4 linked regions of the Homo sapiens genome follow. The protein of the gene in region 1 purifies or fractionates together with the protein of each later gene. This does not show direct contact. Each region holds a gene or a part of one and is shown in the gene's direction. Other genes may lie near its edges.

What was found.
Region 2: the proteins of PTGFRN (region 1) and TSPAN14 purify together in Homo sapiens (co-immunoprecipitation; one large-scale study listed by IntAct). This does not show direct contact.
Region 3: the proteins of PTGFRN (region 1) and TSPAN5 purify together in Homo sapiens (co-immunoprecipitation; one large-scale study listed by IntAct). This does not show direct contact.
Region 4: the proteins of PTGFRN (region 1) and CD82 purify together in Homo sapiens (affinity purification with western blotting, with the first as the bait; one study listed by BioGRID). This does not show direct contact.

Annotation. Positions count from the first base shown.
Region 1 is NC_000001.11:116,958,003-116,962,952, forward strand, and holds part of PTGFRN (prostaglandin F2 receptor negative regulator precursor), read left to right. Parts: intron 1-3,240; coding exon 3,241-3,666; intron 3,667-4,950. UniProt on the Homo sapiens protein: Inhibits the binding of prostaglandin F2-alpha (PGF2-alpha) to its specific FP receptor, by decreasing the receptor number rather than the affinity constant. Functional coupling with the prostaglandin F2-alpha receptor seems to occur.
Region 2 is NC_000010.11:80,456,744-80,461,693, forward strand, and holds part of TSPAN14 (tetraspanin-14), read left to right. Parts: intron 1-2,541; exon of another isoform or gene 2,542-2,841; intron 2,842-4,950. UniProt on the Homo sapiens protein: Part of TspanC8 subgroup, composed of 6 members that interact with the transmembrane metalloprotease ADAM10.
Region 3 is NC_000004.12:98,469,087-98,474,281, reverse strand, and holds the end of TSPAN5 (tetraspanin-5), read left to right. Parts: intron 1-1,694; coding exon 1,695-1,760; 3' UTR 1,761-3,915; downstream 3,916-5,195. UniProt on the Homo sapiens protein: Part of TspanC8 subgroup, composed of 6 members that interact with the transmembrane metalloprotease ADAM10.
Region 4 is NC_000011.10:44,563,627-44,569,365, forward strand, and holds the start of CD82 (CD82 antigen), read left to right. Parts: upstream 1-2,036; 5' UTR 2,037-2,110; exon of another isoform or gene 2,111-2,704; intron 2,705-5,739. UniProt on the Homo sapiens protein: Structural component of specialized membrane microdomains known as tetraspanin-enriched microdomains (TERMs), which act as platforms for receptor clustering and signaling.

The DNA of each region.
Region 1 (4,950 bases):
TAATCCATTCATCTGTTGATGGACACGGGTTGATTCCATATCTTGGCCCTTGTGAATAATGCTGCAATGAACATCTACCATCTTTCATCATAATTTTGACAGCCTTTGAAAAGGTGCCACTCTGAAAGAATCTGCACGGGGGTGGAAGTAAACCATTAAGGATCAAAGGGTCTGTCACCTGTGAGGAGACAGAAGAGGAGTCCCCACAGGCAACTTCATGGTGTTTTGGATCACACTGGTCAGTCAGGCTGAGGCGAGGGCCTGCAGGGAGCTGTCTTCTGGGTCACATTCCCTGTGGCAGTAACTTAGTGTCATGGCAGCACTGCACTCAGCGTTCCTAAAAATCATGTGTCAGTCAGTGGAACTTAGAAAATATGAAGTTTAGAAGACAGTAGGTTTGGTTCATCTGTGAGCTAAGGATGCACTTGAAAGGTGGTAGAAGACAGGGCTCCGTTCCCATCTGCCACTTTTGAACTGTGTGGCCAAGTCACTAACTTCTTTAAAGCTCTCCCCTCAGAAATGGGAACTGTGAATAATGATCACAAATATATACACGTGTATGTGTATATGAATATGTGTGTACCTGCATACACACACACACCAGGCACCAGTCTAGGCATTTTAAGTACAGTATATTTTAACTCTTAACCCTCACAATAACATTATGAGCTAGTTACTGTCATCCCCATTTGTATGGGTGAGGCACCAGAGATCTGAGTAATCTACCCAAGGTCAATAGCAAGTAAGTGGCAGAACCAGGATTTGAACACAGTCTGGCTCCAGACCTCAGCTCCTCACCACTGTTCTCTGCTGCCTCACAGTTTGCTGTTCAGGGTTATGGTTCTCCAGTCCCCACACAGTCTCATGCCACACAGGAAGGGTCTTATGTGTTGTGCTTGAAATGGACTTGAGGCTCCATGTAAGAGCCACTGCTGGCTGCTGCCTACAGATAGTTGATGCTCAGTGTTCTGGGGCAGTCTTACCCTATGCACAGCTGGTGCAAATCTGCCCTTTCCACATGAGATGGACTTAGTTGTCCTGCTCTGCACCCACATTGCTGCATCCTGAATTCGACATGAAAGTTTAGATGTGGAGTAATTTGAGCATTCCTTATCTTTTGCATATGATGGTGTAAACACAGTTGGGTGGTGTGTGTCCTTCAGTCAGTTTTTGCTAGGGTGATGTGTGGTGTGGTGTATTAGCACCATGCTCAGGTTCAGGACATCCCCTAGCAGTGTGACAGCATATGAGCCTGTAAAATGAGCAGTCAGAATGGCCAGTGGATTCCTCTCTAGCCCTGGCAGTCCCACAGCCTGTGGATTTCTCTATGGTGTCCACATCACAGTACGATGTACTCCCATGGATGGGCACAAGCAATTAAATACTTGTGAAGATGACATTTGAGGAATTAGGATTTTGAGTTCTTTGCATTTTCTGGTCCACTGAATCATTCTTGGAGAAATCATGATGTTATAAATTCCATTAGAAGTGTAAATCACAAGAAAAGTTCCTTGACCTCAGCAGTTTGTAATCTGTATGTCATAAATGAAAACAATGTTAAATAAAACCAAACTTTGATCAAGGTGATGCAGATAAAGATAATGTTGATAAATGGAGAGTTCTGTTTAGGTAGTATTATTTTTCTCCCAGAAGGCAAAGTGCTATGGAAGAAAAACGTAGCCCTTTATAGGCCGGGTGCGGTGGCTCGTTCCTGTAATCCCAGCACTTTGGGAGGCTGAGGTGGGCAGATCACTTGAGGTCAGGAGTTTGAGACCAGCCTGTCCAACATGGCAAAACCCTGTCTCTACTAAAAAAATGCAAAAATGAGCTGGGTGTGGTGGTATGTTCCTGAATTCCCAGCTATTTGGTTGGCTGAAGCATGAGAAACGCTGGAACCTGGGAGGCAGTTGCAGTGAACTGAGATCGCGCCACTGCACTCCACTTGGGGACAGTAAGACTGTCCAAAAAAAAAACAAAAGAAGAAGAAGAAGAAAAATGTAGCCTTTTCTAAAAGCCTGAACATTCAGGCAGTAAACATTTACTGAGTGCCTACTGCATAAAAGGCAGTGTATTTGGAGCTTGAGGATGAGACTATAAGCAAAGAGTCATTGTGGAGTGGGCTAACTGGCATACAAAAGTGCATAGATGGCTTATGGGAGCACAGAGTATATCCCTTCTGGGGACCCAGGACCAGGTGACATTGAAGAATAAGTGGAAGTTTGTAGTGCATCTCACATCATCACAGTGGCGTGAGACTGTGTGGAGACTGGAGAACCTCGAGTAATCAGGTGTAGAGGAGCTGGGGGAAAGGAGAGGAAGCCACAAGAGGATTCCAACATCAGCTCCTTGGCAGGTATGGAGGAAGCCTTGGGGCAAAGGAGGACAGAACCATGGAGGTGCAGAAATGGATTAAATTGATGCAGTGAACCCCAGAGGAAGGAGGGGTTTTTCTCCCAGTGGAAACAGGACCGTGGCAGAGGCAAGGGGATGCTAGGAGAATGCTGGCTTCCCTCCCACCCTTCTCTGCAGGGACATGGGGTGCTCACTAGGGCAAGATTCACAGTGACACAGGTGAGTTACATGTGGCAGTAGCGAGAATGTCTGTGGGAGAGTTTGAGGATGGGAGTGCTTATTGACCACTGAACACAGATTCCGCAGAAAAAGTCAGAGGAACGGTAAAGTGAGGACATAAATATGTAGGGGGAATGATGACCTGAGGGCCTTGCATTTAGGGCATGGCCAAGGATGACAGGAAGCTGAGCCACTGTGCCACTGATGGGCCTCGAGTTCTGGAATTTACTGTTGGGTGGGGTTTTCCGATACTGTTCCAGTGGGGGTGTTGGAGGTCTGTGGGCTTACTTGGCATTCCAGAGCAATCTTGGTAGGGGGTGGACACTGAGCTTCTTAAGAGATTCTTCTCAGAAGACCTTAACCTCTTGGGGAAACTGACAGCAGACCCCAGTGCCATGGAAGGATCAAGATTCTGGCCGAGGACATTGGGCTTCTGTTCTTGGGAGGTTTTCTTGGGGTGGGAGGTATGAGAAGCGGTGTTTTACAAGTTTTGCAAAAACACTGTTCTAGGATCCTATCCAATGCAACGACTGATTTCTGTCTCTCTAGTCCGGCAGGAGAAGCATTTAATTGTTAAAACAAGAGCAGTCCTTGTCTCATTCCTTTTGTTAATTCTTGCCATGTTACTCTAATTATTTTCCTATCCTGGCCTTTCTGTCTCTCGTTCAGAACCAGACTACCAGGTGTACCTGAATGCTTCCAAGGTCCCCGGGTTTGCGGATGACCCCACAGAGCTGGCATGCCGGGTGGTGGACACGAAGAGTGGGGAGGCGAATGTCCGATTCACGGTTTCGTGGTACTACAGGATGAACCGGCGCAGCGACAATGTGGTGACCAGCGAGCTGCTTGCAGTCATGGACGGGGACTGGACGCTAAAATATGGAGAGAGGAGCAAGCAGCGGGCCCAGGATGGAGACTTTATTTTTTCTAAGGAACATACAGACACGTTCAATTTCCGGATCCAAAGGACTACAGAGGAAGACAGAGGCAATTATTACTGTGTTGTGTCTGCCTGGACCAAACAGCGGAACAACAGCTGGGTGAAAAGCAAGGATGTCTTCTCCAAGCCTGTTAACATATTTTGGGCATTAGAAGGTAGGAACTTTTTTCTTGTTATTCATTTTTGTTTTGTCTTTGCTTAAGTCGTGCCGCTGTGTGTTGATGCACAGTCACCCTCTGCAGGTTATCACTTACACTAGGAATGTGTGTCCTGGACATTGATCGCCATGCGACCCGTTGCACATGCTCTTTGGACTCACTATCACCCCTCCTCTGTCCCCAAGCCCCAGAGAGGTCCCTCTCCAACTCACTGTCAATCAGCCAAGTCTCTTGTTTCCTGAACTTTACCTCTGAATGTTTCTTTTCTCTTTCTTGCATTAAACATGGTGACTCTGAGGACACTCTTTCCCCTGGAGAAACCGTTACCTCTCTGAGGACAGTTTCCCCCAGAGCCCAACTAAGTGATGCCCATTTTCTTCCCACACTTCTCATAACTGGGCCTAGAGGTGTGGGGCAGGTGCCCTTCTTGATCCTCCCTGCAGCTTCCAGGTCGTTTTCGCTCACTCCTAAAAATATCTAGCTTCGAATCTCGTGTCATCATCACACCATACCACCTCTTCTTGTTACTATTGCCTGTTGCCTCCTAGGTCCTCCGTTCATTCTTTGAAGATGTTAGCGTTTGTTTCACGGCCACTCTGTCTGACACTGCTCCCATCTTGCTAACTTCAGTATCTGTGTAGAGCACTGGGTCACAATTGGAAGCCCCCTAGGAACTTAAAAAAAATGCTGGTGCTTTGTCCCACCAGAAATTCTCCCATCCAGATACTAACCAGGCCTGACCCTGCTTAGCTTCCAAGATCAGACGAGATCAGGCGGGTTCCACCAGAAATTCTATTTTAGTTGGTCTGAAGTATATGCATTCTGGGCACTGGAATTTTTAAATGCTCCCACAGTGATTTTCATGTGCAGCCAAGGTGGCGAACTCTAATACAGTTAATCCTGTCATTCTTAGTTGCTTGTCCTCCTCTCTGTAGTCATCATGTCCTCTATCCTATTTGGTCCTACACTTACATGCTTATATGCTACATTAGACCGTCTCCCTTCTGATAACTGAAACCCCTCCACAGTCTCAATTTCAAGCATCCTGTTCTCTAAACATATCTCCTGTCTTTCTGTACCGCTCCGTCTAGTACTCCAGCAACAATCCCCCAACCTTACTGGGGCCAACAATCTGTTAATCCTACCACCTGACATCGTCCTTCACTGCCATTGTGTCTTCACGTCTCTCTCACTAGGGTGCCCATTTGTAGTCCAGCGTACACCTGGAATGGTGTACATTATGATAGCACCTTCTTTCATTCTCAGAGCTAAGGCTGGGAG
Region 2 (4,950 bases), on another chromosome or scaffold:
TGTAATAACTCATTTAATCCTTGAAAACAGCTGTGATGGCTGGGCGTGATGGCTCATGCCTGTAATCCCAGCACTTTGGGAGGCCGAGGTGGGTGGATCACCTGAGGTCAGGAGTTCAAGACCAGCCTGACCAACACGGTGAAACCCTGTCTCTACGAAAAATACAAAATTAGCTGGGCGTGGTGGCACATGCCTATAATCCCAGCTACTTGGGAGGCTGAGGCAGGAGAATTGCTTCAATCTGGGAGGTGGAGGTTGCAGTGAGCTGAGATCGCGCCGTTGCACTCCAGCCTGGGCAACAAGAATGAAACTCCATCTCAAAAAACAAAAAACAAAAAGCAAAACAACCGTGATGTCAACAGCTCCATTTTACAGATGAGGAAACTGTGGTCCCGAGAGGTCACAGAGTAACTTGCTTGAAGTCTCAATATGAGCTGGGTTTTCTCATTTCTTTTTTTTTGATACTGAGTCTCACTCTATTGCCCAGGCTGGAGTGCAGTGGCGTGATCTCGGCTCACTGCAACCTCCGCCTCCTGGGTTCAAGTGATTCTTCTCCTGCCTCAGCCTCCCAAGTAGCTTGGACTACAGGTGTGCACCACCACACCCAGCTAATTTTTGTATTTTTAGTAGAGATGGGGTTTCACCATGTTGGCCAGGCTGGTCTTGAACTCCTGACCTCAAGTGATCCGCCCGCCTCGGCCTCCCAAAGTGCTGGGATTACAGGCGTGAGCCACTGTGCCGGACCAGGTTTTCTCATTTCTAATTTAGACAATATGTTCCTCTCAGAGGTGATTAAAATGGATTCATATACCAAACAAGCCTGGCCCACAGTGGAACTAATGAATGTTTTCAGTGAAGGTGCCCTTGTATCCCTGCCTCTGAACACATCTCATCTGTCCAGCACAGCCTGGGCACATAGCAGGTACCCCGGAACCCCCGCTGATTGGTGATGGAGCTTCTGTCTCCCTAAGGCCAGGGAATGGGAAGACCAGCACTACCACATGCAGAAGATTGGGGAGTCACTGCTTGTGTCTGTCTGGACAGATCACGGTTTGCTGTGGTAACAGCAATCCCCAGGTCTCAGAGGCTTAAAGCAACAGAGGTTTATTTCTTGTTCACACTGCATGTTCATCACTTATCTGCTTTATGTTGTCCTCACTGGGGGGACCCATAGTGATTAGTGGGAACACCCCTGGTGGCTTGGACAGAGGGACAGAGAACATGATGATCCCTGTGTCCTGCCACTGAGTCCTGGTGGCCTTTAAGATGCCTATGGGAAGGGGATTAGGTTCCTGCTGCCTGTCTCTGCCCTGCCGTGTCAGTCCTTGGATATCTTGCATGTTCCATCCGCTACCTGGATGTGGCCTGTAGGGGCAGCCACCTTTCCTAGAAGCAGGAGCAGGTAGCGATACCCAGGCAGGCCTGGTCCTCCCCACTTTTGTGGGACTCGGGGATTGAGCTTGCAGGCATAGGGGTGTAGAAAGCAGTGGTAGCGAGGTGACTGAAGGTGGACTCCCACTGGGGATGGGATTGAGTGTGGGGCTAGATCCCTGGTCTGTAGAAGGGAGTAGGAACCCTGTTAGTTAAATTTTCCCCCTCAGGCCACGTTAGTAGGATTTTGAAGAGTCAGCCACACTGTGGCTCTTGATTTTGTGCCTGGTCACCTGCTTGGTCTCTGGTGATTTCCCTCGGGGCCAGCAGACACTGTTGGAGGTGGTGAGGCCTCAGGTTCTTCTGCTTCATGGTTAACTCACTCTGCTTAGGCATATTTCCACCTTTTCCAGGGCCTCCGTTTTTCTGCCAGTGGATTGAGAGGTGGTGGTGGTCTCCAGCAGTGGTCTCACTCTTGGCAGGCTATCAGAGTACCCAGGGAGCTGCGTAGAATGAAGTTTTGAGAGTCTTTGGTCTAGGTGAATGCCAGCGTTTCAGTTTGCTTATCTTCCATTATAGTAGTGTCCTCTGTAACTGTGAATCAGGGAGGTTATTCATAATATCTCCACATCCATTTTCTCCCTTAATTGCGTATGCTTTTGATTTAGACAGGGCAAGTAGCCATTTTGGTGGAGCGCAGGCCCTGGCAGGGGGGCAGTGTCCAGTGCCGCTCTCAATTAAACGTGAAGATGTGAAGATGAATAACACTGTCCAGCTTGCAGAGTGGACGGTGGTGAGGCAAGCTTTCAAGTTGCACCTACTTTCTAGTTGAGTGACCTACACAAGTCTTTGATTTTTTTTTTTTTTCTTCCTGGAAAAAAAAAGTTGTCTACTTTTCTCATCTGTAAAGTGAGAAGAATCAAGTCTGCCTTTTCTGTCTCACGGGGTTGCAGTGAAGCATTAGTACCCTGAGAAGCAAGATCCAAAGCCCCTGAGTTAGGCCTGACACTGGTGTGAGACAGCTGCCATCTCTGGCGGCACTCAGCAAGTGTTCACCAGCAGCTGATTCTGGGAACCTCACTTCCTCCGCCCTTGGGCTTGGTGGGGTTGGGTAGGGTTGGGTGGGGCTGTGGTTTTCTTTTAGGAGGCAGCAGGCCAGGCCTGGAGACCAGAGCTTAAGTGGGCCTGGGCAGGCTGGGGTTGAAACTCTTCACCCCTTGCGGTCTGTACTGCCTCCCAACTGAGCAGCCAGGGAGAAGGCCTAGAGCCTGTGCCTTTCAGCTAGATAGCTGGAGGAACTGGCTCCTCCCTCCTTAGGCTGTGCTGGCCTGAGCTGGGAGCCTGAGAGCTGGGGCAGTTGTCTCTAAAGTGGCTTCTGGGATTCTGGTAAGAGGTGAGCTCCTGGTGCTGCCTCAGAGTCTTTGTGTTTCCTGGCATTTGGGAGAGCTGGAGTTGGGCTGTCCTGCATGGGTAAGGTTTGGGGAGGGACTGGAACAAGGGGCTAGTGAACCTTCTCTGGGTTTTTCCTGCCTGACTATGCGTTGACAGTCCCAGCTGTTGGGCCTGTGCTCCTGTACACTGCACGGCCTTGAGAGGAGTTCGGAGCCCTAACATCCAGGAGAGAGGCCCCACAGCAGTGGAAGGAAATGGGCCTCTCCCGAATCTCTTGTTTGTACCCCGAGGTCTGAGTGGTGATCCTGGGGATGCTATGGGACTCTCAGCAGTAGGAGTGTGTCTGTCCCCAGTCTGGGTGCCCACCAGCTGTGCTGAGGGTCCTCTCCTGTGTCCCTGGGCCAGGCAGACAGGGTCTTTTTCTGGGGCTTGTTAGGGGAGGTCAGCCACAGCCCCAGACCAAGTAATTTACACACCCTGAGTGAGGGGTGGGAGCAGTGGGTCCAGGAAGACTTAGGGAGCTGGTGAAAGAAAAACTTAATTCTGACACTTGTTAAACTGGTAAGGTAGACTGTATCAGGACTATTACGATAGATGTAGGAATTATCGCAATGGATTTTGCAGTAGAGGGGAGAGAGTGGGCCAACTCCAAATACAACAAAGAAAAGTGGGAACTTATAGCCAAGGAGCGGAGTGTGGGGGCTCCTGAAAATTTCTAAGAGGGTAGGGAAATTTTTACTAAACTTAGCTAACTGAATTCTTGCTGCAGGCAGGCCAGGGTGATCAGGTTTTACCTGGGAGATAGTACAGGATGAGAAATACGTTCAGATATCCAGGGTGATTAGATATTGAGGTTGGGGGATTCTGGTTAACAGGAGTTTTGCTAAAACTAGGCTCTTAGAGAGAATGGAGTTAGGAACCCTAGGTCAGGACCAGATGAGTAGAGGGCTCAGAGGAATAAAGTTTGGTGAGGGACAGAATCTCTGTCAGTATCCCGTGGTTGGCAGTGTCCTGTCCATTCTTCTTGCACTGGCCTGTCCCTCAGGAGACAGGTGTGAGTGGTCCTGAGCTTGGGCCAGTGTAAGAGTAGGGGACAGGTTTCTCTCCTTGTAGGTGTCCCTTCTTGTAAGTGTCACTCTCTTTTTTTCCAGAAACCTTGGTCCTTTTCAGCATCTGCTGGCCCCTTGTCCCTTGGCTCCCTTGCTCTTGGCCTGCTGGATTTCCCCTCTGCACCCAGGAAATCGCATGGACCTGGGTCCTTGTTTCCCTACAGCCCACCAATTTTGCTGCTTTTTTCTGCCCCCTGAAGCTGAGCTCCTGCTGCAATTTGTGTTCCCTGCTCTCCCTGTCCTGGGCAAACCAGTCTGACAACTTTGTGGTTCTCGCTCCCGCCTCCATCAGCCTGGGGATTGACTGTCCCATTTGTCTGAGCTGGGCAGAGGGAGGTGCTGTGGGGGATCTCTTCCTCTTGCCTGGACTGCACACTCCTGCTGCCTTCTAGCCGGAGCTCCTGGGCATTTTGCCTATGGGAGCTTCACCAGCTTCCTTCTGTCTGAGGCCTACAAGTCCCTGCCTCCAGCCTACCTTGTTCCTCCTCCATGAGTGAGGCTCCTCCTTTTCTCTCTGGCCCTCCTGTCTACTTGATCAGACTCTGCCTCTCTTGAGGGCCGGCTCCCTCCAGCCTACCCTGCACAGGTGACCCTGTTTGGCCTGCCTCCTTTTCTTGAGGCTGATCTTGTCTCAACAGTCAGCTTTTCAGGAACCAGGCCCTTGCTGTTGTAAGGAAAACCTGTCGGCTGTGGATGGGGCCTTCCCTCCTTCCTAAAGGCTCTGTAGCCAGCTTCCACCCTTGCAGTGGAACAGTGGTGGTGCCAGAACCCTGCTCTCTGCAGCCATCCTGCCTACCACAGTCATTGTGTTTTGTAACTCTAGTAGCTTCTTGTGAAATACAAGTGATGGTATAAACGTGGATAGGTTTTTGAGGGGGGCATGCCAAAATCAGAGTTGGTGGTAGTGGTGGGGGATTCATTCCCAAGGGCTCTGGGGTGCTAAGTGTGTGAGCAAAGAGGAACAAGTGGCATGTGCCCAGGATGGGGTGGGGCGGGCAGGTTTAGTTGAGGGCTCCTCTGGTGTAGGGTAGCCCTGACGCTCCCCTCCATGGCATGACTGATGAGGTGGCAAAGGCAG
Region 3 (5,195 bases), on another chromosome or scaffold:
TTCAACAAATGGTACTGGGAAAACTAGATATGCAAAATAATGAATTTAGACTAACTCACACCATATGTAAAAATTAACTCAAAATAAAGCAAAGACCTAAATATAAGAGCTAATGCTATAGAACTCCAGAAGAAAACATAGGCATAAATATTTGTGACTTTGGATTAAGCAGTGTCTTCTTAGATATGACATCAAAAGCATAAGCAATGAAACAAATGTAAATAAATTGGACTTCAAAATTTAAAACTGTGCTGAAAATGATACCATCAAGACAGTGAAAAGATAACTCCTAGTATCTAGAAAAATAAAGAACTTTAAAAAGTCAACAATAAAAAGACAAACAACTTAAAAATGGGCAGCCAGGCATGGTGACTTGTCCCTGTAATCCCAGCTGCTTGGGAAGCAGAGGCAGGAGCCTGCACTGAGCTATGATCACGCCACTGTACTCCAGCCTGGGCAACAGAGCAAAACCCAGTCCCTTAAATTATTAAAAAACAAACAAACAAACAAAAATACGGGCAGAGGATCTGAACAGACATTTCTCTAAAGATTAAAATTGCTAATAAAGGCCGAGGCGGGTGGATCATGAGGTCAGGAGATCGAGACCATCCTGGCTAACAAGGTGAAACCCCGTCTCTACTAAAAATACAAAAAATTAGCCGGGCGCGGTGGCGGGCGCCTGTAGTCCCAGCTACTCGGGAGGCTGAGGCAGGAGAATGGCGTGAACCCGGGAAGCGGAGCTTGCAGTGAGCCGAGATTGCGCCACTGCAGTCCGCAGTCCGGCCTGGGCGACAGAGCGAGACTCCGTCTCAAAAAAAAAAAAAAAAAATGGCTAATAAGCACATGAAAAGATGCCAACGTCAGTAGTCATTAAGGAAATGCAATTCAAAGCCACATATTTCATACTCGTTAAAGCGGTTAGAATAAAAAAGACAGACAATAACAAGTATCGGCAAGGATGTGGAGAAAACGAAACCCTCATATGTTGCTAATGGAAATGAAAATGTTGCAACCTCTTTGGGAAACAATTTAGCAGTTTCTCAAAAGTTAAATATAGTGCTACCATATGAGTCAGCAATTCTACTCCTAGAGGAGTACCCAAAAGAATTGAGAAAGTGTTTACCCAAAAACTTGTATGCTCATGTTCATAGCAGAATTATTCATAATTGCCAAAATGTGAGAGCAATGCAAATACACATCAACTGAGGAGTAGATAAACAAAATGGGGCATATCCATGCCATGGAATATCATTCAACCATCAAAAGGAATAAATTAATAGCACATGTATATGAACCTTGAAAATATTTTGCTACATGAAAAAGACAGCCACAAAAGCCCCATATTATATGATTCCCTTGATATGAAATGTCCAGAAGAGGCAAATCCACAGAGGCAGGAAGTAGATTAGTGGTTGCTAGGTCTGTAGGGATGGTGGGATGGGAATGACTGCTCACAGGTACAGGGTTTCTTTTTGGGGTAATGAAATGTTCTGTGATTAGATAGTGGTGATAGTTGCATAGCTTTGTGAATATACTAAAAGCCCCTGAATTATACACATTTCAAGGATGCTTTTTACCACATATGAATTACATCTTAAATTTCAAAAATCAATGATTTAAAAAAATGGGACACAGTGGCCAGGGAAACAAGTTACAAGTGTCACTGTTTCACTCACATTTTCTTCCTTTCTCAGATATTTGGGATATGCCTGGCCCAGAATTTGGTTAGCGATATCGAAGCTGTCAGGGCGAGCTGGTAGACCCCCTGCAACCGCTGCTGCAAGACACTGGACAGACCCAGCTTTCGGGACCCTCCCGCGTGCCGAACTGATCTTCGAGCTGCATGGACCTAATCACAGATGCAGCCTGCAGTCTCGCCTAATGGAGCTGCCATTAGGGGAGTGTAAAACTGGGAAATGCTGCTCACTGACAGAATTAAAAAAAAAAATAACCAGTATGAAAGTCGTTGCGCCGTGAATCTCTACTGTAGCCATGAATTTATGGACAGTTAGATGCTTACCAAAAAAGAAAAAAAGGGAGGGTAGGGGACCCAGATGTACTTGAATGTGCAGAAAATACATTCTTGTCCTCATCTTCCGTAATTGGAGGGCTGGGAGAGGCAGCTTTGCTCTTCACCACACCTTGGACGGACCACCTTCTTTCTGTTCCATGGCCTGAAGGAGTGCATCTCCTCAAAGACTCAGCCCCTCACCTGGGAGGGCAGTGGTTTGTGGGCATCCCTCCATGTACATTTTAGGAAACACTTGCAACTCTCATCTGAAGAAGAAAACAACTCATCTTTGGGTTCAGATTTTGTGATGGTATTCAGCAAGTCACTTGGGCGAGCACACTTGGTCTATCCTGGAAAGTCTCCTTATAAGAGAAGTTGTGTATTTCATGTGCACCGAGCAAGGGCATTGGAAGACGTCATGAGGCTGTATTTTAGCAGGACTGATCGTTTTTCTAAGTAGACCTGAGCTTTGTTTATCAGTGAAATTCAAGGAGAAAATGAGGTTAATGAAGAGGTATCAGTTAAATATCCCCTTCTTCTCACCCTGCCAAAATTAGCAGTTGGATTTTTGGAAACTCTGGAATATTCTGGGTCATTTTGTTTTGTATGTTTGTTGTTTTTCGTCTTCCAAAGGTGAAAGCTATGATACAGTTCCACTTAAATTTTAGTGTTTTCTTACTCAGCTCAAGCATTAATTTTTGATTAAGTCTTAATCTGCATGACCTGTGAATCTGAATCCATCATCTCCCTTTCCTGCCAGCTTTTCTACAAACATTGAAATATGTTATTTGGTCAGCACTTATTTCCTAGGTTCACAGCCTTGGGAGGTTGTGGCATGTCCTCCCAGTCTGGCTGGGAAGAGACCAGCTGTACCATCCAAATGCTTCCCTGGTCTTGATGATCTCTTCCAGAGTCGATCTGAGTGGCCTTTTCTGCACCCTCCCCTTCTTTCTCTTTGAATGGAATTAAACCCAATTTGGAAACAACATTGACCCAGTCAAAAGCTTCTAATGGTTTCTTTTTCTTCCTCCAGTTTTAGTTTGCTTTTATTAAAAAAAGAAAATAGTGCATGGCCATAGCTCCTTCAGTTCTCTTATTGCAGACTAACCATCAGGATGGTATCAAAGCACAAATACTTTGGAGGGGAATGCGTTGAACTGGGGCAAGTACTCTGTAACACAAAGTGGGAAACCACTTCCTGGTGCTGCCGCTCCTGCCCCCACTTTAGGTGGGAGGGACGAGTTTTGCCCTCTAGATTTTAATCCAGCTGGTGTCCACCGGATGTTGCCCTCCTGGGGAGCAGATATCAGTCTGTGGAACTCTGGGAAAACCACAGGCACATTTTTCGGTGCGGACAGATTTGCCAGCACATAACTGGGCAGCCAGCTAGAATACTTTGTGGAAATTAAGCGAGGTTTTCCATTTCAGCCCCATGGTGCATGGTGGTGGCCGATGAATGTGTCAGTCTGCTCAGAGAAAGGACAAAAAGGAAATTATTTTCAAAACTGTGTTCACTGTTTGGGTGTGTGTATGGCTCTGCATGTGTGTGTTTTTGTCTCTGTATAGGTAGAGGTATTCACATCTTACTCCGACTGTAAGGTTGTCTTACTTCATCTCTGCCCCCACCACAGTTGCCATTTTGTAATGTCCTTCCAACATGGAGAAGACACGAGCTCTCTCCAGTTGGCATCATTTGTCTTTTTTGTTGATTGCCTCATTCTCCAGTGAACTCCATCTGGCCAATTGATTCAGAATCAGGCAAGATCCCTGCCCTTTGGCACATCCACTGAAAGGCCAAACAGCAAGTCCGAGTGAGTTTTAAATATTAATTAATCACCCTTTATTTTTTACACTTGAGAGTGATTGTAATAAAGGCTGTCATTAATAAACTTGGTTCTACCTTACATGGTGTGTCTTTCTTCATTACTTCTTTCTTGAAATTGTGAAATTTTCGAATCCAGTGGTTCTCAAACTTTAGCAGGTGTCAGAATCACTGGGAGGACTTGTTAAAACACATGAATGCATTTGCTCCGTGCCCATAATTTCTAACTTAGTAGGTCTGGGGTGGGGCTGGAGAATTTGTATTCTGATAAGATCGTAGGTGATGCTGTTTGCGGCTTGTTTGGGGACTACACTTTGAGAAGCATTGTTCTGATCCAGTTTTCTAGGAGGGGAAACAGAAAGGTAAGATTTTGTAGTTGGGAAGGGAAAGGTTCCTTTGTACTTAAAAATGCTGACTGACAAGACACAGAGGCCAGAGCCTCGTATGTAGGAAATCCCTGCCCATGAGGTCATCTGCTGGTTACAATCACTTGGGGACCATGTGAAATACAGATTCCCCAGACCTTACCCCTAGCAGTTCTGGAGTGGGAGACAGGGTAATCTATGTTTTAAAAGCTCCCTTGAAAATTTAATGCCTGGTGGGATTTATGACTTATGGGCTTAGATAAATGTTGATAATATTCACAACCTTTTATATAAGAAAATAATTTCTCACAGTCCCTTGGAGCTGGAATCTTAAAAACCCATTAGAGAAACGTCAGCTTAAATGTCTTTCATTGTGAATTATCACTGCAGAAGAAGACTTCCGTCGTTAGAACTGATTAAATACTTTTTTCAAAGATCAAATGAAAACAAATTTTAAGGTTCATATAGCACACTTAGATCCTGACAACATAGTGTCAGACTTGTTCAAGAAACGTTTTGCCTCATATCTCAGATATTTGAAACAACGTTATTTTGATTTTAAGGAAATTTATCAGTGATGATTGGAGATGGCCAATCCCTGCTTCTTGAGTTTTCTTATTGTCTACATTGGCCCTCTTTGCTTGTTGCAAACTATAAGCCAACAAAGGAAAAAAAAATGACAGCTCAGAAGTAAAAGGATGCTTTGTCTATAAAACTCAAAAACTTGGAGGAAGTTTCTTCAATGTGTAGAAGGTAGACTTTAGGGGAAGCTTATTAAATTTCTCTTTATTTCTGTTGTTGGGCTGGTTACCACTAACATCATTGCTCCTATAATTTAAAAATATACAGTTTTTAAATGTGAACTCAGGAATTTAAAAATATTTTGCATCATGAAGTACTTAAAGAAGTGCATTTCCTTTGTTCTTCCTCTTCCTTCTCCCAGGGAGTAATAAACCTGGACTTTTCTTTCAGCCTTCTTCCTGCCACAGGTCCCAGT
Region 4 (5,739 bases), on another chromosome or scaffold:
TCGGAGGGAGCGGGGTGTGGAGTAGGGTGGAATAGGAGGAATTTTATGCCCATTTTGCATGGGCTGGGTAGGGTAGGGATCTGAAACCCAGCCCAAGACAGAATGGCACAGTGGTTCTCAAAGTGTGGTCCCCGGACCAGCATCCACATCATCTAGGAGCTTGTTAGGATCTTAACCACTTGCAGGATAGAGGGTGTCTCTCTGCGGGTATGACACACTGCTGGGTTTAAAGGATTCTCCAGCCTCACTTTTCTGACTTGGTGTGGGAATGCTATGAAGGAGACTTTTTGCTGAAAAGAGAACATTTTCTGAGCATGTACGGCATTCAAGCGGTGGGCCAAATACTTTATGAATGCTGTCACATGTAATCTTCAACAGCTACCATCAAGATCGGTATGATTGTTATGGCTCATTTTATTATTATTCCCTGTTTAAGGGCTCATCCCAGAGGTTAAGTATCTTGCCTTGTCCTGGGTTTAAAACGCAACCAGGAAGCTACCTAGGTCTGTGTGATTCTCAGACCACCCTGACTTCTTTACAGTTTGCTCAACAGTGGTTCATGCTTGAATGTGATTCAGAATCACCTGGAGGCCTTATTAAAACCAATTGTCCCACAGTTTTCCATTCAGTAAGTTGGGATGGGGCTTCAAAATACGCACTCCTAACAAGTTCCCAGATGATGTTGCTCCTGGTTCAAGGACCACGCTGTGAGAACTACAGTGCTGGGCTGGGATCCAGCTCCCGCCCTTACTCCACTCGTACAAAGCGCTCATAATCATACCCTCCCACAACGGTGTGTTGTGAGAGGACATTGTGATAATGGAAGTGAAAGAGCTTTGTCAGCTGCACAGGTGAATGCCCCTGGTCATTAACCAGGTAATCTGCCTGAGGCTAGTCCTCTGGAGCCTGGGAGGGCAGAGGGCTGGGACGCAGGGTGGGCACCGCAGCCACCTAGAGAGCTCTTGCAGCCCACCTCAATTTTGGGCCACTTTTTCTTCAGGGAGAAAGCCAGCTTTGAGGGCTTAGGCCCACAGCCCCTCCTGCCACTATTCTCATCAACCCACACCTCCTCCCTCACCTCAGGCAGCTGCTGGGCACTGCCCCAGCACTGGTTGTTCTGGGCTACTTCCCCAGGGGCCAGTCCAGGCAAGCTGGGGCAGCTCAAGCCTGTGACTCAGGACCTGAGGCTGGATCCCGCTCACGCCCGCCTCCATGAGATTCAGAGCCCTCGACTTCCCTTCTCTGAGCCTTAAACTGCGCATTAGTAAAATAGGCGCAACGAGAGTACCCATGAGTTGTGGGAATTCAAGGGCTAGAACTGTATTCAGCGCTTGGCATAGAGCCTGGCCCCTGGCAAGGATTCAATCAATGGTAGTCAGTATTTTCAAAAAGTTCCTGGGCCCAGGCCGCCTCCTGATAGAGGCCCCGACTTAGGACACAAACCGCTCCCACGCCGTTCCCCGGCGGCACCCGGATACACCCGCCCTGGAATGCCAGCGTGGGGGCCCCAGGGCTACCCGCCCGAGATGAGAGGGGCAGGGCAGGGCAGGATTAGGAAGGCGCTGAGCCCAGGCTGGTGCGGGGAGGGGCGTGGCCTCACCCTACTAGGGCCGGGGGATGGGGTGGGCTCGAAGGAGAAAGTGAAGGAGGCGGGGGCGCTGGGAGGGCCCGGGAGGAGACCGGGAGGACGAGGTAGGCGGGAGCTGGGCGGGACCGTTAGGCAGCGCCGTGAGTGGACAGGGCTGGAGCGGGGCGGGCTTAATCCCCAGTGTAACCTGGGGGCGGGGCTGCCGGGATAGAGGAGAGACTCCGTAGCGGGGCGGGGCCTCAGCTCCAGCTGGGCCCGGGGGCGAGGCTGGTTGGGGTACGGCCATAGTGGGCGGGGCCTGGCCGGCGGGAGCGCACCGCCTTCCCAAAGGGCTCGGGGGCGGGGCCGGCGGAGGGGGCGTGTCTTCTGGGGGCGGGGCCTGCCGAGTCCGCGGCGTTCCCCGGCTGCAGCCGGGAGGGGGCCGAGGAGTGACTGAGCCCCGGGCTGTGCAGTCCGACGCCGACTGAGGCACGAGCGGGTGACGCTGGGCCTGCAGCGCGGAGCAGAAAGCAGAACCCGCAGGTGAGCAAGGGGGCAGCGGGCCGGGGTAGCCTGCCGGACAACCATAGGCAAAGTTAGTTTTAGCCCCCGCTTCTGCGGTCCGGCTCGGACAACTTTCCTCGGAACTAGTGACAGGTCGGGGCAGCTGGTGGGTGAAAAGGAGCTTTAGCCACCAGTCCTGAACCCCCAGTTCTCACACTCGGCCGTGCACAGCTGCGTGATCCTGGGTCCGTCCCTCTACCTGGCTCTGGACCTCCCGGGTTCCAGCAGGAGGAAGTGAACCAGGTGAATTCCACGCTCCCGTTGCCCTTTCTCACTTAAAACGCCGGAAGGTGAGAGCTGGCAGGTGAGAGCAGGCTGCAGGTCGCCACAGGTGTTCCCATCGCGTTGCCCTCTGCAGTTTCTCTCCCTGCAAAATGGGACTGAGAGAAGCGAATTGCTTTAAAGAGTGCACTGTTTCCTCGGTTGGGGCTCGAACCCACCAACCCTGGGGAAGAGGAGGCCAAAGCAGGGAGGTTCCATTTCCCGCCTCACCTGCTTCCCACCAATTCTAACAGTTCAACTGAGCCGGACCCCCTAAGACTTCAAGTTGGAAACTCAGTGGGGCTTTTCCAGGTGAGCTGGCCTGAGCAGGAGGTTGGAAACTGGGGAACAGTTCTTACACTGGTGAGTGGGGAAGAGAAGGGAAAACCCCACCAATCCTTGGGCCCAGGGTCAAGCCCAGGGCCCCAGGGGCCCTTGAAGCATACCCGGGGTTAATTTCTTGGCTGACGGGTTCTGTTCCTGGAGGTGGTGGGTGCTCTGTGCTGGGCCCCAGTAGCGGGGCAGCATAGTTCTGTGGTCAAGGCTTGGGCTTTGGGATCAAACTGATTTGGATTCCATTCCCCCTCCAAACTTCAGTTTCCTCACCTGTAAAATGGGGATAATGACAATATCCAATAGCAGGAGCAAGCACTAAATAGAATAATGTGTATACACTACTTAGCAAGGTGCCAGGAAACCAGTGAGACCTCCCTCTGTGACAGCTGCTTTGATGCGGGTGGGCAGGTGATGGGCTTGCTTCCTATGGGGAATGAGCCTTTTTTTTTTCTTGGAGAGATGGGGTTGGCTACAGCCCCTCCTGACCTTGTGAAAGCCAGAAATTGCCACCTGCCACCAACATCACTCTATTTGAGGGATGAGGACTGTGTCATCTGGAACAAAGAGTGGCTGAGTTTTCTGTAATGTTGCTTGAGGTTGGTAAGTGTTGAGTTAAATAAGTCTAAAAATGTTTACTGAGCACCTACTATATGCTAGAGAGAGCTAGAGGATACAGAGGTGAACTAGCCAGGCCTGAGTTGCTGACAATGAGGGCTCCCCCATCCCTACCATGTCCCTGTAGAGAGGATCAGTCACACCCAGGGCTTATAACCAGATGAGATTTCATGGGTCTGTTCTGCCCTGGTGGCTGGAATCCAGCTATACCATTGCACACTTGGCTTGGGATGGGGGCGAGGGGCAATGTGGGCACCCGATATCTAAGCAGGGTTGGACACTGAAGGACGCTGAAGGTGCTGCATTATATTGGCTCCCTGCATCTTCTGGGAGATAAGCTGTACAGTATGGAACAAACTGGAAAGTGCTGTGGGACAGAGACGGACTGGCGGCTGCGCTGTGTGCAGGAGACTGTGTGTGTATGTAGGGCAGGGGGAGGTGTTCAGAAGAGTGAGACACTTGAGAAGCCAGGGCAGGGGGTGGGGGTAAGGAGGCTTCCTGGAGGGGGTGAGACTTGAATAGGACTTTCTCTCTGGGCTCCTGGTCCTGGTTTGGCTTGGATCAACATGGGACCACAGTCTCTTCAAGCACTGAAGTGGCATAAATTGGAGTTTGGTATGGTGGGGAGGGAGAGGGTCTGGTAGGTGGTGCCTGAGGTGGGGAGGAGGAGACGTTCATTTCAACAGAGCCTACCTAGTGAGCCTTAATGGAAAGCCCTCCCCACCACCACCCCCACTTCCTGCTCGATGAATGACAAGCGACCACATAAGGCCTGCACCCTCAGGTTGCTTACCATCCGGGAAGGGGCTTACACAAGAATACCAGGGACTCTGATGGAAGATAAATGAAAAAAGGATTAGAGGGATCTTCAGGGCCTTACAGACTGGGAAGATTTCGGCAGCCAGAATGAAGATAGTGTCTTGAGGAGAGGAAAATGCCTAGGCAGAGGCAGGGAGGTCAACCTGTCCTGAGAATTCTCGAGAAACCTCTAGGTTGCTCATTCTGGCTGAAGTTTGGGAACGTGTGGGGATATGCAGTGGGAATAGTAGGTGGGATCAGCTTACGGAGGGCCTTGAATGACAGGATAAGAACTTTGGATCTGATTTGCAGAAAGTGGGAGCCACTGAAGGTTTCTGAGGAGAGGAGTGACACAACAGAGCAGCACTTTAGGAAAGTCAGTCTGTACCAGATGTGCTGGGGTGGAGGATCCAGCGGTCAAGGGATAATGAACCAATGGCTGCAGTGACTGGGAAGAAGGGGTCTGGGTGGCTTTGGGGATGTCTGCAACTGGGAGTGAAGGAAGAGACACCAGCCACAGGGAGAGCAAAGGCACCATTGGAGGGGTGGGAGGGGACTGTTCCAGCACATTTGCACTTCTTTCTCCTCCCTATCCTGTCTGGTACATAGCAGGGTCTCAGGAAGGTGGCTGGATTGGGTGAGTGGCGGGGTTGCTGGGAGGGTGATGAATGCTACAGAGGGGTTTGCCCATGAAGGGGAGGCATCTGGGCCGAAAGGTGGGAGCCTGTGCCAGCCAGCAGTAAGTTTGGGGGTCGGGGGCGGGATGGTTAGAAGAAGTGCCTGCTGATCCCTCCCTCCCATCCCAGCCCAGGGAGGATAGGGGTGAGAGGTCAGCCATGTGCTATCTCTGGCAGTGGGTGAGCAGTCAGGGCACAAGTTTCCCACAGTAGGGGGACTGGGGCAGGATTTTGGCTTCCCTGGGCTCCTCTGAAGTTTCCGCTATGTGGGGGCGGCCCCCTCTGTCTTGAGGCCTCACGCTTTAGAGCCACAGCCTGGAAGCTCCCACCGGCCATCCCCTTCCACCCTGGGGACCCAAACCTGTTCCCCTAAGGACCAGACAGTCCTCCCTCAACCCATGGCTGAGCAGCCCCAAGTTCTGAGTGTTGTTTCAGATTCGGAGCATCTGGGGCCAGCTGGCACCCCTGATTCTGGCTTGACCTTGGCCTTGGCCTTCTGCTCCAAACCGTTATACCCACTTCCTCTGCCCCATGGGAAGCTCACAGGGGGCGGTTATGACTTAATCAAGAACATCAAACGGCCAGGAGCTGGCTCTGTGAGAGGTGGGAAGGGAGGGAAGAGCCTGGACTGTTTGGCCTGGGCCCCTCTGTGGGACAGGACCCGTTTAATCTCAGCAGGAACTGCCCTACCCACCCGCTTCCCCTCCACTAAGCCGGGGTCTGAGGAGCTGGGAGGGGAAGCCCAGAGGTAAACATGGAGTGAGTGGTGTGGGATGTGTTGCTCCCCTCGCCCCTGATGCTGCCCTAAGAAGAGGCAGACAACCACAGACCCGGGGCCTCTGCAACAGGCCCAGCTGGTGTCTCTCGGAGGCTGGCTGGTTCCTGACTCACCCCCGGGCTTCCCCTTCCACTGTGGTTTTC